Linked DNA regions of Homo sapiens: region 2 is linked to region 1. Evidence: fine-mapped expression QTL. A gene starts in region 1. The other region holds a variant in brackets. All regions are shown on one strand. Distances are between the middles of the regions. Region 1 holds the start of FPGT-TNNI3K (FPGT-TNNI3K readthrough). Region 2 holds the start of TNNI3K (TNNI3 interacting kinase).

What was found. PIP is the estimated chance that this variant, and not a neighbour inherited with it, causes the effect.
Region 2: its variant is the best candidate, but not a certain one, in a credible set for the expression of FPGT-TNNI3K in skeletal muscle (GTEx, PIP 0.52).

What each region holds. Positions count from the first base shown.
Region 1 is chr1:74,194,974-74,203,323 of GRCh38, reverse strand. FPGT-TNNI3K (FPGT-TNNI3K readthrough) reads right to left here and starts at 5,082. Exons shown (of 27, transcript NM_001112808.3): 1 at 4,964-5,082; 2 at 3,493-3,660; 3 at 1,914-2,006. The coding sequence starts at 5,045. It overlaps LRRIQ3 (leucine rich repeats and IQ motif containing 3), which reads left to right and starts at 5,148. Exons shown (of 8, transcript NM_001105659.2): 1 at 5,148-5,328. FPGT (fucose-1-phosphate guanylyltransferase) reads right to left here and starts at 5,082. Exons shown (of 4, transcript NM_003838.5): 1 at 4,964-5,082; 2 at 3,493-3,660; 3 at 1,914-2,006. The coding sequence starts at 5,045. RefSeq lists a silencer at 5,145-5,244.
Region 2 is chr1:74,233,356-74,241,705 of GRCh38, reverse strand. FPGT-TNNI3K (FPGT-TNNI3K readthrough) reads right to left here. Exons shown (of 27, transcript NM_001112808.3): 4 at 5,496-5,604. TNNI3K (TNNI3 interacting kinase) reads right to left here and starts at 6,319. Exons shown (of 25, transcript NM_015978.3): 1 at 6,215-6,319; 2 at 5,496-5,604. The coding sequence starts at 6,254. The variant C/G (reference allele first, on the strand shown) is at 3,632.

The DNA of each region.
Region 1 (8,350 bases):
ACATTTCGCTCAATTATGGACAGCATATACATAGGTTGTCCCATAAGATCATAATGGAACTGAAAAATTCCTATCACCTAGTGATGTTGGAGCCATTGTAAAGTCCTAGCACGATGCACCACTCAAGTGGTGATGCTGGTATAAACAAACCTGCTGTGCTGCCAGTTTACTAAACTACAGAACATACAATTATGTATATAGTATATAATAATTGGTAATAAATGACTATTTTACTGGTTTATGTATTTACTATACTATACTTTTCATTGTTATTTTAGAATAAATTCATATGATACATACAAAAAAAAGTTAAGCATAAAATGGCCTCAGGCAGGTCCTTCAGGAGGTCTTTCAGAAGGCAGCATTGTTATCATAGGAGATGACAGCTCCTGAACTTTAGTAGGACTATAGAGGTAGTGATACTGATGATCCTGACCCAGTGTAGGCCTAAGCTAATATGTTTGTGTCTTCATTTCTAACCAAAATATTTAAAAAGTAAAAATAAAAACAACAAAATAAACCCTAACAATATAAAGAAAATATTTTTGTACAGCTGTACAGTGTTTGTGTTTTAAGCTGAATGTTATTACAAGAGAGTCAAAAAAATTAAGAAGTTTATAAAGTAAAAATGTTATAGTAAGCTAAGGTTAATTTATTACTGAAGATCAATAATACCTGTAAAGCACTTGGCAGCACACAGTACATTGTTCAACAAAAGAGAGCTAATAAGTTTCTGTTTTTTTCTTTTTTCAAAGAGCAGCCAATAGTCAAGTTTAGCACTAAGAATTATCTATTTCCAAAAAATAAAAATAAAAAAATTATCTAACTATGCATTTCCTGGTATCTAATTTAATTTTTACTAAACTGATAATAATTATTTTCTTAAATAAAATTGTAAATTAGATTGTTTTACACATTTTTAGGCTTCAAACCAGAACTTGGATGCTTTACTTTGACATCATCTTTACAAAGAATCATTGTTTTGTATGTAAATCATAAGAATGAAAAAGTGCCTTGGAAGCCATGTAGATGAATAATTCTAAAATACCTGTCCCTGGACTGGTGTCAGTTCATGACAGTTTTCATTAGCCCCTTAACATACATAGAAAAACAACAAAGGTTTTCATGTAACCAAAATTTTCACACAACTAAATGTATTCAATTTAAAAAGCTATTCTTCATTCTGAGACCATGTCCTTCCTACTTTTCTGTTTTAAAATGTCTTATTTTGTGTGTGTGATTTCTCTTTTATATATTTACTTGTCCACTCTGTATCTTGTCACATTTTCCTTTTATTTTTAAGCATTGTGGCCTCTGGCTATCAATAATCACACAAAAATGCAAGATAAAAAGTACTGGCAAAAGTCTAGTAATGACAGTGTTAAACCACCCTTCCCTCAAAGCAAGAATCCCCATTAAGGGAGAAAGAGTGTTAGGAAAAATAGCTAATGCATGCTGGCTTAATACCTAGGTGATGGGTTGACAGGTGCAGCAACCAACCATGGCACACGTTTACCTATGTAACAAACCTGCACATGGACCCTGGAACTTAAAATACAAATTAAAATTAAAAGAAAAATCCCCATTAAAGTATTCCCGAGAACTATTCATATTTGAATGAGTTGTCTTAGGAAAATAATTTTCTATATACATACCCAAAACAAAACAATATTCATAAAAGACTGACGATATACGTGATCTACAATTTTACGAGTAAAATTTGTGAAAATCACTATACTACTTACAACCTAAAAAAAGTCATGAAAATCATAAAATATTTGTTTTCAAAGCAGAATAACTTCAAAGATTCTTTTAAAAAAGAAGGAAAGTGTTTGCAAGAAAGAAAAAAGTCTCTAAAGTATTAAAGGTGGAAGACTAAAAAGAAAATGTAAATTAGTAAAGTATAACATTACCAGAGTGAATTAATAAGATGGTAAAAGAATTCCATTTATCTCCATATAGCTTTTCCAAACATTGAAGGGCACAAAGTGTTGATCCTCCATTTCCTTAAAAACAAAGTTAAAAAAGCACAATTTATTTAATAGAAACCTACTAAAACTTTGTCATGACAGTAAATTTAGGTGTTATATAACCTTAAGGATTTGCCTTTCAGGAATAAGTAAATAGATGGACATCAAAGGTATTGGCAATAGAACAAAATTAAAAACATCTCATAGCAAACAACCAATCAATAAATTAGCAATGAAACCCAGACAACAACCCTCAGTAATAAATGATGAGGTAATATTCTCCCCAAAATAGTAATTATAAGAAAGAAGAATCAATTACACAATCTGTAACACTAGAAGACTGATAAATATAAACATTCATACAGAGTTACAAATCACAAAGCCCATTTAAATAATTCTCCCAAATGACACAATCAAAAACACAAGTTAGAGTTCCTTTCGAAAAAAGATTTTTAGAACTTGGATTCCCAAAAAAAAATCTTAAATATAACTACCACACTAGTTATCTTGGGCCAGTTACTTAACTCTTGAGTACCTCAGATTCTCATCTATGGAAATAATATCACGCCTGTAATCCCAGCACTTTGGGAGGCCGAGGCAGGTGGATCACGAGGTCAGGAGATACAGACCGTCCTGGCTAACATGGTGAAACCCCGTCTCTACTAAAAAATACAAAAACAAAATTAGCCAGGCTGGTGGCAGTCACCTGTAGTCCCAGCTACTCGGGAGGCTGAGGCAGGAGAATGGCCTGAACCTGGGAGGCGGAGCTTGGAGTGAGCTAAGATCGCACCACTGCACTCCAGCCTGGGCAACAGAGCAAGACTCCTTCTCAAAAAAAAAAAAAAAAAAAAAAAAAGAAATAATAACAGTACTGACCTCATAGTTGTAAGGATTAAAATAATGTTGGCTAATTAGAATAATGCTAATGTCATATTAATGTCATATACAGATATCTTATCTCTGGTATCAGGGGGCTTCAACTTTAAGTATCACATAGAAAAGAGCATTCAGAAAAACAGCATTTATTTCTATTTGCAATGGACGGTCAAAGGGCAAAGTTGACCTAAACTAGGGTTTTCAAATATATGTATTATATTTAAGCCATGTGACAGTGTTCTTTTGCATTCTGCATTATGTCCCTAAGAGGTCAAGAGTATTTTTTCCCACTAATTGCTTTCTTCATGTAAATTGCTGGAGGAACTCTGGAGTGGAGAGGACCTCAAGGGTTCTACTGATAAGGTCCAAAGGAGTATTCCTATCTGAATAGTGTGAATTTCATTAAAACTAATAAAATTTTCTTTTAAGTAACATTCTGGAAGTTTTTCAAGGTAAGTCATAATGGGTAAGAACAGTTGCTATTCCTTTTATCTTTCTAAAAAAAGTCAATTTATGTTCAAATTTTAAAGTTTGTAAAGCTGTGGGTAGAGATATGCAGCTTATACACTGTAAGTCACAGAAACCTTTTCTTCAATGATTATTCTGCTTAGGACCTATATTATAAAACTGACCATAAAGCGCGTACCAATTTTGGCTCCAGCAGGATCCACAAAAACGTGATATTGAACTCCAAGGGGTAACTCCTTTCTTTTCAGCTTTTCTGACAGCTGTTGGTTGTAAGCAAGTTCCTGTTTTTCATCAGCCGCTGTTATTGCAACTATGTCCCAGAATTCTCCACGTGCTACAAGTTTGCCTATTTGGAAAAAGCAAGGAAATGAAAACAAAAATTATCAGAATTTTCTAGTTGCCACAGGTTTGCCTATTGAGAAAGATGATAAAGAAGGTAATATCCATTATCATCTTCCAAAATGTATCTTTGGCTTTTGAAAGTTAGGGAATAATTAGTGGTGCATTAATACGATTCAAAATAGTTATAATGAAGACTGTTCACAAGTTCCTTTTTTTTCTTTTAGATCACTCCCTCCTTTTATGGTTTGCAATCCAATTTAATTATAAATTCTGAATGACATAATGTTTCTTGATTAAGAGAGCGACTTTTAACTTGCCAAAGACTATTGCCTCAATTCTTCAATAAGAAGAGGAGATAAACATAAACAAATCTCCAGCTTTGCAAATCAATTCTTATGTATCACGGACACTTGGTGTTAGGTGACTAAGAAAGACACAACCCAAAGATCCCTTCCCTCAATGTTGCTGTTTATAAATGTGGGTACTTTATTTTCTATTACTTTAAGATGAACCATGCAAACTTACATAGGCTGTTAGAATATAACATAAAATTCTGGATAACAGAAGGTCCCAACTCTCTGATGACATCTTTAAAAGACAGTGTGCACTTTTAGTAGACAGTTGGAATCTCTTTATTGATAAACAAAATGATTTAGCATTTTAATTAGTTAACAAACAGAACTTGTCAGCTAGAATCTAATAGTCCTGAAAGTTTTACTGTTATCCAAGAATTAGTCCCAGTATTTTTTAAGCAGTCACTGCAACACAAATATAATCACTTTTATTAGACAGGTGTACAGGGATTAAGTGTCATAGCCAATTTTTTGATAACAAATTTCTTCCTTTTAATTTTTAATCCATAATTCCTCCATGTTCTGTTACTCCCTCAACAAACGGTTACATTACAGAAGTAGATGAACGTAATGTAAAGCGTGAAGTAGATAGGGGGCTGGCATCTACTCATAAAGTTCAAAATACTGTGCTTCGTATCTTTTAGATTTATTTAAAGCAACTTTTATTAATGAGCTAATCAATGCATAACTTCACTAGTAAGATTTTCTTCTTCTTCCTCCGCCCTCATTTTTAATATCTATACTACTAAGAATAAAGTAAGCAACAAGCATGTCAAGCAGGGACAGTGAAAAGAATAAAAAACTCAAAAGGATTATTAGCTAGCTACTCCTGGGGAGCGTCATAGGCCTACAGATGAGAAGTAAACGGGAAGTGACAGTCCAGCAAACCTCCTGGCACGTAAAAGCACCCTCCCTCTGCATTGCCCAGGAGAACTCCGGTGCCTTCTCTGGTACCTCTTAGCTCGGAAAACCTCCGCAATTTTCGCTGGGTGGCTTCTCGCAGCGATACTTCCGGAGGGTCCCTAGCAGCTGCCATAGCCCCACCTTCCCTGAGACCGCGCCGCACAGCACGCATGCGCCCTGGGGTGCGCCTCCGCCCGGTTGTTTCTGACCCGCCCCCTCCGTGCGTCGCCCACGTAACCACGCCCCCGGAGCGCCTTGGCTGGCGCCCGGAAAACCATGATGTGGAGAACTTGGATGTTGTCTTGTTTCTCTAGCAACGGTCTCAGGAGCAGATGGCCGCCCAGCGATTTGTCTGACTGTGTTGGGGCTGGGCCACTTGTCTCCAACTCATAAGGGCTTGCAGCCCAGTTGACCCGGTGAGTGGTTCAGTTTGGGTGACAAAATTGTTAGAACCGACCCGCTAAGGATAAGGCGAAACTACATTCTAGCTTCCCAGCTTTCACATCAAAGGCGGTTCGTCCTAACTGGTGGTTTGTTTCAGCCTGGAGCAGTTCCCCAGGATAGCCTGATAGAAGATCTCCGCCATCTCTCCTTTCCCCCGCCACCCCGGGCCATCTGCCCCCAACCCTGGGTCATGATACATACACAGTCTGAATATTTAAAATCTCTGCTCTTTCTAGGAACCTTAAGTTTGTGGTTCCTAGAGAGTGAGCCACCCCACCCCTCTGTTTTTTCTTAGTAGGCTACACACGACAGCCTCTCAAATAGTGTCTTTGAAAGTTGTATAAAATTCAGTCCGCAACCAGGCTCCAAATATTTTTGGTATTTTGGTTTCTTCTCTGGCATTCTTTTGTATATGCAGATTAATCTAGAATGTTCAATAACACTCTTAGGAATAAGTCAGCCTTTTTAGGTGTTTTTTTGGGTAGCTATATAAAGGTGTTCCTGTTATAGAACACGAGGTTTCTTGGTTTTACAGACCACTTCATCTTTACACAGAAGAAAACTGAATCAGAGAATAGTGAGTTAGTCAAGGTATCACAATTAGTAAGTAATAAAAGATTTAAGAAATATATTTCAATCCCAAACCCAGAACTTGTGGTATTTCACCATACCGTTTGATTTTTTGAGACGATTTCTCTGTATCAACGTCTTCATTAGGTACGTAGACATTCAGGGCACCATAAACTCTTGTCATAAATTTACTTAGTTTTTCTTCTCAGACTTGTTATACAATCGTGTTCTAATAGTGGAAACATTTGGATAAAATGGCAGATTAGATTACTCTTTCATAGTTTTACATTTAAAACTTCATTAATTAAAAAAACAGTATCTTATTGAAGAACATTTAGAAAATACAGAGACTTGAGTGAAAGTAACCAAAGGAGAAAGTAGCGAGAGAAGGTCAGAGAGAGAACAAAGGGCCATAGGAAGAATTTTGGTTTTTACTCTTGAGGGAAACAAAGCCATTGCAGGGTTTTGAAGTGACTTGGCTTATGTTTAAAGAGATCACTCGGAGATAGGAGAATAGATTATAATGGGGGATGAGGCAATGATAGAAGCAGGGAGACTTCTTTGGAGGTTACTGCAATATTGCAGGTGAGAGCTGGTGAAGGCTTGACCAGGATGGTAGCAGTGGGAATGGTGAGAAGTTGGTCAGATTCTGGATATATTTTTAAGACAAAAACAATAAAATGTGCTGATGGAATTAATGGGTGTGGACTGTAAGAGAAAAAGAGGAGTCAAAATGACTGCCTTGGGATGGATTGGCCATCAATTAAGATGGGTAAGTTTCCGACTGAGGAAGGTTTTTGGGGTAATAGGGTCCAGAATTTGATTTTGGACATGTGGAATAAAGAGACATGTGTATGCAGTGAATATGTAATGGAAGTTTGTGTGTGTATGTGTCTGTATGCATTATACATACGAGTCTAGAATTCAGGAGAGAGGTCTGGGCTAGAGATACAATTTTGGGAATTGTCAGCAAGAAGATAGAATTAATTTTAACTGTGGAACTAAGTGAGGTCCCAAGGGAGTGAAGGTCAGCAGAGCCTATATGTTTGGGGTCTGTATATTCTAATAAGGTGAAATAAAGAAGGAAGAAGTAACCAAATAAAAAATCCAGTGGTAACAATTGTGAGGAGACAAACAGAGTGATGTGTTAGATTCTATCATACAGAATATTAAATAGAGTATTTATTGGATCTAGGACGGTATCATACAGAATATTAGAGTATTTCTTGGATCTGGGAAGGATGGCCATAGAAATTGGATATTATTTTTTCTCAATATGACTATATCATGCAATCAAAATTTGCTGGAAATAAATATACCATATTATCAGCTATGGCTTCTGTTTTCTTTCTTTTCTCAAATTTTCATTAATATTAATTTTTAGTAAAAAAAAAATTAAAAAATACTATATATATGAGTAGGAGTAAATTTCCGTGGCAGTTGATTGTTGGAGGCAAAAAAAGTTTAGGGATTTTATTTAAGTTCATATTCACTATAATAAAACAGTGTGATATGACTGTTTAACATCTTAAGCTACCAGAGTATTATTATACTAGAGAATTCGCCACAGAGTTTTTCCAGGTATTTATCAGAATGTCATTTTACCAGAGTAAAATATATCAATCCAGCCAAGCTGTAAGCCCATTAATTCTGCACAAATCAAACACACAGGAAATAATCTGTTTAGTTTTGGATTCCACATTTTTAAAAAGATGTTGAACATACTAGACTATAATAAATTGAAAAATTATATTCTGTGGAGGCATTTGGGCTTTTTATTTCCAGGAGGAGAGTAGAGAGTATCTGAAGAGCTGCCATAAGGAAGAATGAGATAGATTTTTTAAAGCAACTTTATTGAGGTACAGGTTTAGAACATTTTCATCCCCCCATTAAAATGTCTTCCAACCCATTTACAGTTAATGCCAGTTACACTGTTTTTTTATTACTACAGGCATATAACTATGACTGTTGTGTGGAAATTATAGAGAAGAATGTTTTAATTTTCCCCCCTTCTTTATATGAGGAAGTTGAAGCCAAATGAATAGGGTCCTGGATTATATACTGTGGAGCTCGTAGTGCATGCTGTGGTCAGGCCAAGCTAGGGCTGTACTTGTTTCCAGTCCTTGTGCTTCATGGCTCTGTTTAACCACTGTTTCCTCCTGTTACCCTTCCTGACATGCAACGAAAGCAAAAATTGTCTTTTTGCAGTTTGTTTTATTTCGATTTATTTACTCAGCTAGCCTGTTCTCAATTTATTTCTTAAATATTTTTTTTCTCACTATGCCCTGTTGGAGGAACCCTCACACCCCTCAACTTTCTGTAGTGCAGAGAAACATTCTCCCACCCCTGAACTTTTATTATACTTCCTCCCTTAGTATTTTTGTAGATTTTTTTTCCAAATGGAGTTCCCCAGTAGTGTAATCA
Region 2 (8,350 bases), 38 kb before region 1:
TTTTTGCAATCTACTCATCTGACAAAGGGCTAATATCTAGAATCTACAATGAACTCAAACAAATTTACAAGAAAAAAACAACCCCATCAACAAGTGGGCAAAGGATATGAACAGATACTTCTCAAAAGAAGACATTTATGCAGCCAAAAGACACATGAAAAAATGCTCATCATCACTGGCCATCAGAGAAATGCAAATCAAAACCACAATGAGATACCATCTCACACCAGTTAGAATGGCAGTCATTAAAAAGTCAGGAAACAACAGGTGCTGGAGAGGATGTGAAGAAATAGGAACACTTTTACACCATTGGTGGGACTGTAAACTAGTTCAACCATTGTGGAAGTCAGTGTGATGATTCCTCAGGGATCTAGAACTAGAAATACCATTTGACTCAGCCATCCCATTACTGGGTATATACCCAAAGGATTATAAAACATGCTGCTATAAAGTCACATGCACATGTATGTTTATTGCAGCACTATTCACAATAGCAAAGACTTGGAACTAAGCACCAACCCAAATGTCCAACAATGATAGACTGGATTAAGAAAATGTGGCACATATACACCATGGAATACTATGCAGCCATAAAAAATGATGACTTCATGTCCTTTGTAGGGACATGGTTGAAGCTGGAAACCATCATTCTCAGCAAACTATTGCAAGGACAAAAAACCAAACACCGCATGTCCTCACTCACAGGTGGGAATTGAGTACATGGACACAGGAAGGGGAACATCACACACGGGGGCCTGTTGTGGGGTGTGGGGAGGGGGAGGGATAGCATTAGGAGATATACCTAATGTTAAATGACGAGTTAATGGGTGCAGCACACCAACATGGCACATGTATACATATGTAACTAACCTGCATGTTGTGCACATGTACCCTAAAACTTAAAGTATAATAAAAAAAAAAAGAAAAAGAAAAAGAAAAATTATAACTTTTCTGGAGTATTCTCATGGTTTTAAATTTCATATTATAGATTAAGCAGATACAAATTTGGCTTGACAATGAAATTAGCAAAACATAGTCTTAAAATTTATTATGATAAAAACTATTGAAACAAAATAATTTAATTGAAAACATTTGAAGTCACATGTGGAGAGCCATCACTTCCATAGTTTTTTCAAAAAGGTTGTATAATATTCATAACCAAGATTATGAATATGATACATTTTGAAATCAAATAAAGATGGATGCAATCCTAGGTAAATCATACAAATTGTTTAATCTAGTTCAAGCCAGTTTAATTTGATTAGCCTCATTTTCTCCAGGTATAACATGGCAATTGCAACACTTACTTCAGAGGGTTGTTAACATAAACAATAATGATTAAGTGTTAACTAACATTTTTGAGGGTTTGCCATGTGCCAGACACTGTGCTAAAGCACTTTACATATACACCATTAGGATTATATAAGCTGATGCACAAAAAGATACGTAGAAGCATTTCTGGCATATGGTAAGCCCTAAGTTATTAGTTTGTTTTACAAATAAGTACAAATATAAATAAGGCTAAATAAGAAAAAAAGCTGCCTTTAATGAACACATATACTAGTGGGGAGATAGACCTATAAATGGATAAAAACAACACCATGTAGTAAGTGCTGTTATGTTGATAAAGATTAGAGGCAGCACAGAGGAGGATATAATCAGACAATGGTACTCTAAGGTGCCCTTTCTGTCTTTCTTTCTCCTCCTGCCTTCTCTTTTTCTTCATTTCTTCCTGTCACCAATCCATTACCTAAACAAATGTCCAAAGTTATGAGTGAATGCAACTTTATAGCAGAAGATGAAAGAACATTCCATTTCCATTTCCCCTCTCTCCCACATCAAGCTCCCATTCCAAAGCTGCTATAAATTGGCATAAGCAGGATAACTATTTAGCTCTTTCTGTCTTACATTTAGCACTATATTGCTGTTTATTATGTTGTGGGTAAAAGCTATGCCAGGAAGATTGTGTATTCGAGCTGATAGAGCAATGGTGTATTATGTGGTGAAAAATCTCTTATAATGAATGAAATTAGCATCTACCGGGAATGCCATAAAGAAATTGGTTAGCAAATGAAAAACTGTTTACATCAGTGATCCTTTACGTTTCATGCTAGTTTAAATGTTCCTTTTTGGGCATTGTATACAGTCTCCTTGCTATCTAAATGTTTAGAGAAAGGCTGATGTCAGGCAACATAACATAATTGTTTATCACAGGAATGCTCTTTATAAGACAAATGAATAAGGGTGAGTAATGAGATTCTAACATTTATTTAGCACCTATAATGCTCTAGATACTCATTTAAATGTCATTTCATACAGTGTTAGGTTTGATCTTCCCAACTACCTTTAAAATTTTGTGAATGAGTGAGTAAGACAATTTACATTCTCAGCACACTATTCTTTTCTTTCTTTCATCCATCATTTTATTCCAAAGAAAAGAAAATCCTTAGAACTCTGCCCTGGAAGCAATTCACTTTTTTCTCCCAGATTATGCTCTCTACCTTGACGAAATCAGACAAAAGCAGATTATTCTGTTTTTGCTTGCTTGTTTTTGATTCTCTTGACTCTCTTTAGACCACACCAGTTGCTTACTTTCTGTTCCCATATTCCTCATCCCTTCACTAATATCACCTCAGGCAAAGAGTTCTCAGTGCAATTTGGATATCTTTCTAGAAGTATAGTTTTCAAACTTTAGAAGTATCATTTTTATTATGCATAGTTTTATCTGGGGAGCTTGTTAAACATTCAGGTTATTGGAAGACATCTCCAGAGATTCTGATTCACATGATAAAGGGTGGAGTCATGGAATCGAAAATTTTAGCAAGTACTACAGTCTCCATCTCCATTAACATAAGAGGCCCCTAGTTCTTGCAGAAACATCATTCTAGACTGGATAATCCTCTCCTCAGCTTCCTTATCATCACATTCTGTAGCTTCTTTAATGTCATCAGCATCAGGCTATTGGTCTTTCTCTCCAAAAATGTCTCACCATTATCCTCAGTAAATTTGATAGCCATTTTGATTAGCCTTCTAATACTCTAGTCTCAAAATTCTTCAAATCCCTTTCAATCAAAATCATTAAAAGCTATATTTCAGATTTCGGCATCTTCCTAAATTGTGCTAATACTTTACATTTTTAATTTTGAAATCATCCTCTTCATAAAAACTTTCACTCTTTCTAACTTTTAATAAGCTATTTGTTACTCTCACTTTATGATAAGTCTTCTATCCTTCAAACTGTCCTTATTTATCCAATCAATCATGATAATAGAAATTTCCAACTACTCAATGCTTACTATGGGTTGGGCCCTGTACTTAGTATTTAATTTACCTCATTTTGAAAATATCCTGTGAGGTGATTATTATTCACCTCATTTTATAGATGAAAATGAGGATTAAGGAGATTAAAAAACATATCCATGGATATACAGCTTATAAATAGAAGAAGCTGTATTTAAAACCATGTTTGTATGACTCCAAAATTCTTACATTGATTCACATAGCTTTCTTACTCAAGTCAGATAATATGGTGAAGACATTATTTTTTCTCACTTTTCCTAAACTTTCTATGGTACTCATTCATTCTTGCCTACACACCTTTACTTAACTATGCTTTTTATCTACAATGATT[C/G]CAAAAATCAATGAATAAATCAGGACCTAAATCTTGTTTTTGTAAGCAGGGTATGGTAGGAAGAGCGCTATCTATGGAGTCAGGCAGACCTTGACACAAATCACATTCCAGAATTTACTGACCATGTGACTTGACAACTCCCACTGCCTTGTCTCTAATCCTTAGTTTATCATCCACCGGAGTTAATATTATTCGGCACACATGAAATGACAACAATCTACATATGACTATAGATTAAATAATGTCTTGTATTTGATGTATCCAGAACAACACTTGAATACGAGCTGGCACTCAACAAATTCTGGACTGTAAGCTCCCTGACACAGATTCCTGCATCTCACCCCCAATGCTAATCAGAAAAAAGAAGGTCACATTTGTTGCATTTAGTAGAAACACAGGAAAAGTCCATTATAGCAGTTGTCAAAACAGCTTGTAGTTGTCGATGTGGTATCAGAAAGAACCTACATTTTAAATCCATTGTTAATCCTAATATTCAGGTTTGGATACATCTAGTTTAAGCTAGCCTTCACCTATGTGCTCAATACTTTCTAAATTAAAAAATAATACTAAATAACTGAGGCTTTGACCTTTAAAAGTTGAGGAAAATCTCTTCAATGTAATCATATTTCATTTAGCATATTTATTTAAGTCAATAAGAGCTAGATGTTTATGATTAATTTCTATATTCATACTTTTCCAACAAAACAAATACATATTTATAATTCTACTGTACTAACATGCCAGTCATATTTCTACAGGAATTTCAAATGTAGTTCCATATCTCAACATGTGATACTACTTGCAAAAGTCAGATCAGTGGTATCTCATCACAAGTGTCAGTGTTGAGTTCATCATCCTGGGCCAAACTATAAAGAGAACCAACTACTTTTTGAACCATAAGTTGAACACTTGTGAAAGCCTTGTTACATCCATTGACGAATTTCATATAAACTATATTATACATGGGTGATTTTATTTGCCAATTATGTGATATTTATATGTTTACTATATCTAAAATTTTATTTTAAAGATGTGTCATTTGGTCATTGCTTTACACTTGTTTTCTAAGTAAAATAGAGGGAGTTCTTTGCCATGAGTGCATTACATAACACAGCTATAAATGAACATGGCTAATTGGCCTATATGGAACTTTTCCTTAGTCAGGCAGGTAACTTTCTTGACCCTCTAATGGGCATCTAGTTTCTCAATGTCAGATTCAATTTAACCAGAAGGCTTTTTGTGTATATAAGGGTCTTGCTCCTCTTTTCTGAACATTTTGTGTCTTCCAAGGTTGTGACACTTAGATTATTTTTCTCTTGTTATCATGGAACAAAATCTACTGAAATCCTGAAGGCAATATTATATGTTGTTATATGATTGTTCAGGGGCAGAATGATACTCAGTTCCATTAAGGGACAGCCTTTCAATGTCAAGAGACCAGAGGGTTTGTTAAAATTGGACTTACCGTCATAGTTCAAAGAGAACAATGTGGCCAATATGCGACCACTATGTGGGAAGAAAAATCTTGCTTTTCATTGCCGGCATGGTTTACAAGAATGATCTAATTCCTGAGAAGATTACTGAGATCAACAATAGCTTGCATTCAAAGGCTAGCCTTTAGGTTTTTATTTTTAAACTTTAATGATGGCAGATTACAATTTATATTTTAAGGAGGTGAGATGTTATGTTTGCATTTTGAGAGCTATATGAGTGGTCAAAGAGAGATAATCTGACATCCTAAGGCTTAGAACATGACTGCTTATGTCTGAGGTTCTACGGGTTTAAAAAATATACAGATACTTTAAAAAATAAGGTGAATACTGAAGACACTTATACAAAGAAATAATGACTCTTACAACTTTACCCAAATATATTCCTTAGTTCTGTCAGTTCTTTTTCCTTGATCTGCAGGTCATCTTCTAATCTTTCTATTGTGATAACATATGATTCACTGACTTTTTTCTTCCATTCATCTAGTAAAGAAGAACAAATGAGATTGATTCATAGTTGTGTTTTGCAAAATGTAGACACAGATCATAACATACAAGTAATCAAAACTGTTTTTTATTCTAGATTCTACAATACTTAATTTAAATTACTGATTGTGTGTTTAAAATGCAGATGTTTATATTTAAAATGCAATCATATTGAATTGTAGTAATGAAGAACCCATTCGATATTGGATAATATATTTACATAGAAAAATATATTTGACTTATTTCATTTGATTTTATTGCATTTTAATTATAGCAATCTCTAGTTGCAAGACGGTTTTTAGTTTTTAAATACTAGATACTTAAGATATAATTCTAAAATCCCTACATTCAGCAATATTCCAAATTTTTTTCTGTAACATTATACCAAGGAACTAAAATAATATTTTTGTAAGAAATTTCTTGTTTCCTATAAAGATCTTCAGAAAAAAATAATTTGAGTTCAGATAGTTTTTCAAAGACTTTCACAAAACATGCTGCCTTATCTTCCGTATACAAATTAACACATATTCCAATGAGTTGTTAGTTATCAGTAACTATAATTGAACCATATTACACTTAAGGAAATAAGAATAATTAGAATAATTACCAGTACAAGTTTGGGTTGGTCTAGATTTATAATTTCCCATTTATTATAAGTTTCTTCCTTTCTCCAGGGCAGTTCTTCAAGTTATAAGATTCCAAGTTCAAGTGCAGTGACAGTCCAGTTGAAAAATACTTTGATAGTCTGGCTAAAAATAAGCCCAACTGCCAAATGGAATGTCATGCAACAATGATAAAGAACAAAATCGTGTGTGCTTTCGAGGGTGAAATCATAAAGGGAACTAATCAGTCTGTTTAAAAGAACTGTATCAAAAATAAATAGCAAATGTTTCAATAGGATTATTTGCTTCCATCAATTATCTACCCATACATACTTTCATGGACCATTTATTTAACAGATAAATCTAGAAAATGATTCAGTTACATCCGAAGTTCACAAAAGAGCTGTTAAAACTACATAGACCTGTTTTCAAGATCATTTTCTCCTAAGCCAAAATAATGGCAGTTGGTAAAGAGTGGTAATAGAATGTGTCTACATACATAAATAAATAATAAAAATTCATTACCTCTAGCATATAACTAATAGAAATGAATGCAGGTTTGGCCTGTATAAGAGCTACATAATTATGTTTGTATGAAGAAATTCTCAACATAGACCAAGATTTATACTATTGTGGATTATTCCGACCATAAGAATCATAGATCAGAATGTAAAACATTAAGTTCTACAAATAGCAATTCGTAAAATAATAAATGACAAGAACAGTAAGATTAAGAATAAGAAAATTGAGCATTTGCTATGTGTCAGACCCTAGTTTACATGCTTTACATATATCTCATTATTTAATCTCATACATACAGTGCTGCTAGGTAGATATTATTCACAAATTATGGATGAGAAAACACAAAGTTACTAGTAAGTTGGAAGTCTGGAATCAGTTCTGACCATGTGACTCTAATATCCAAGCTAGATATTATTGATTTGTCTTCCAGAATTTCTCTTTCATGCACCTTCCATTTACTTTATTAGGACATTTCTCTTTGTATGCATATTGTATGCCTATTTCTACTGATATAAAGAACCCAGTCTATGATGGAGAATAAATGGGAAACCCAGAAAGAAAACATTAAATTTTTCACTATATATTTATTTCAGATAATCTTCTTATACCTAGAAAGTATAAATTTTAATCTTCAGATTCACATCCAGAGGATATAGCTTTAACTTAACAGATACAGATTTCATATTTTCTATAGTTAAATGTTCAAACAACTCTCTTTTTGAATAAATGATTAGACAAAGTTAGGACTCACCATATATTTTTGCTCAGCAAAAGTAATAGAAGTTTCAGAGGTAAGGCTTCCAGACTGATGAGATATAGTTGGCGCATCAGGTGTCTGGCTTCATAGACACTTTTTGTCCTCATCTGGACATATTCTCCTTTTCCCTTCTTATCAGTACATGCCTACCACAGCTGTTGATACTTGCTATACTGCAGTGGCATCTGGTTACCTTGGTCCATACACTCTACATTCTCCTTGTTTGAAAACCAGACATCTTCAGTTCCACCAGCTTTCTCTAAGCACTTCTGTGACCCCCATTTTCTCAGTTTGGAAAGTCTTTGTTTTGTCCAGGGACCTTCCTGCTTAATCTCTTCTTCCTTATCTTGAAGACCATACTGGATAGCTTTCTTTAAAAGACTTGCAATCTCCCAGGGCTACACTTTAGGAAATAATGCACCAGCTCTTTCTCCTCTCAGAGTTTCTTAAAATAATCATGGTTTCTATACTCTGAATCCAGAAGGACAAAGATGGGAGCCTTCTAGAGGACAACTAAATATATTTTTCTTGATCTCTTTTCTTATTTCTAATATCTCGGATCTTCCATCCGTGTGTGTGTGTGTACATGTATGTTTTCCACATATGGAGGAAAAATTAGCTCTTACATCATCTTCCACTGTGTTTCTAATTTCCTGCTTGGGACACAAGTCTGATGTACTGCTTTTTAGAATTTTTCCTTTTGATTTTCAAGAATACTTTTATTCTCTTAAAAAGCCTAGGTTTTACAAATGAAAGCTTTGGCTTTCAAAGGTGTGATTTCTGCGATGAGTTTGAAAATCCAATCAGCAACTCAGTTGAATTCTCCCACATTCTAATGCAATACATTTTGCTGGAAATAAAA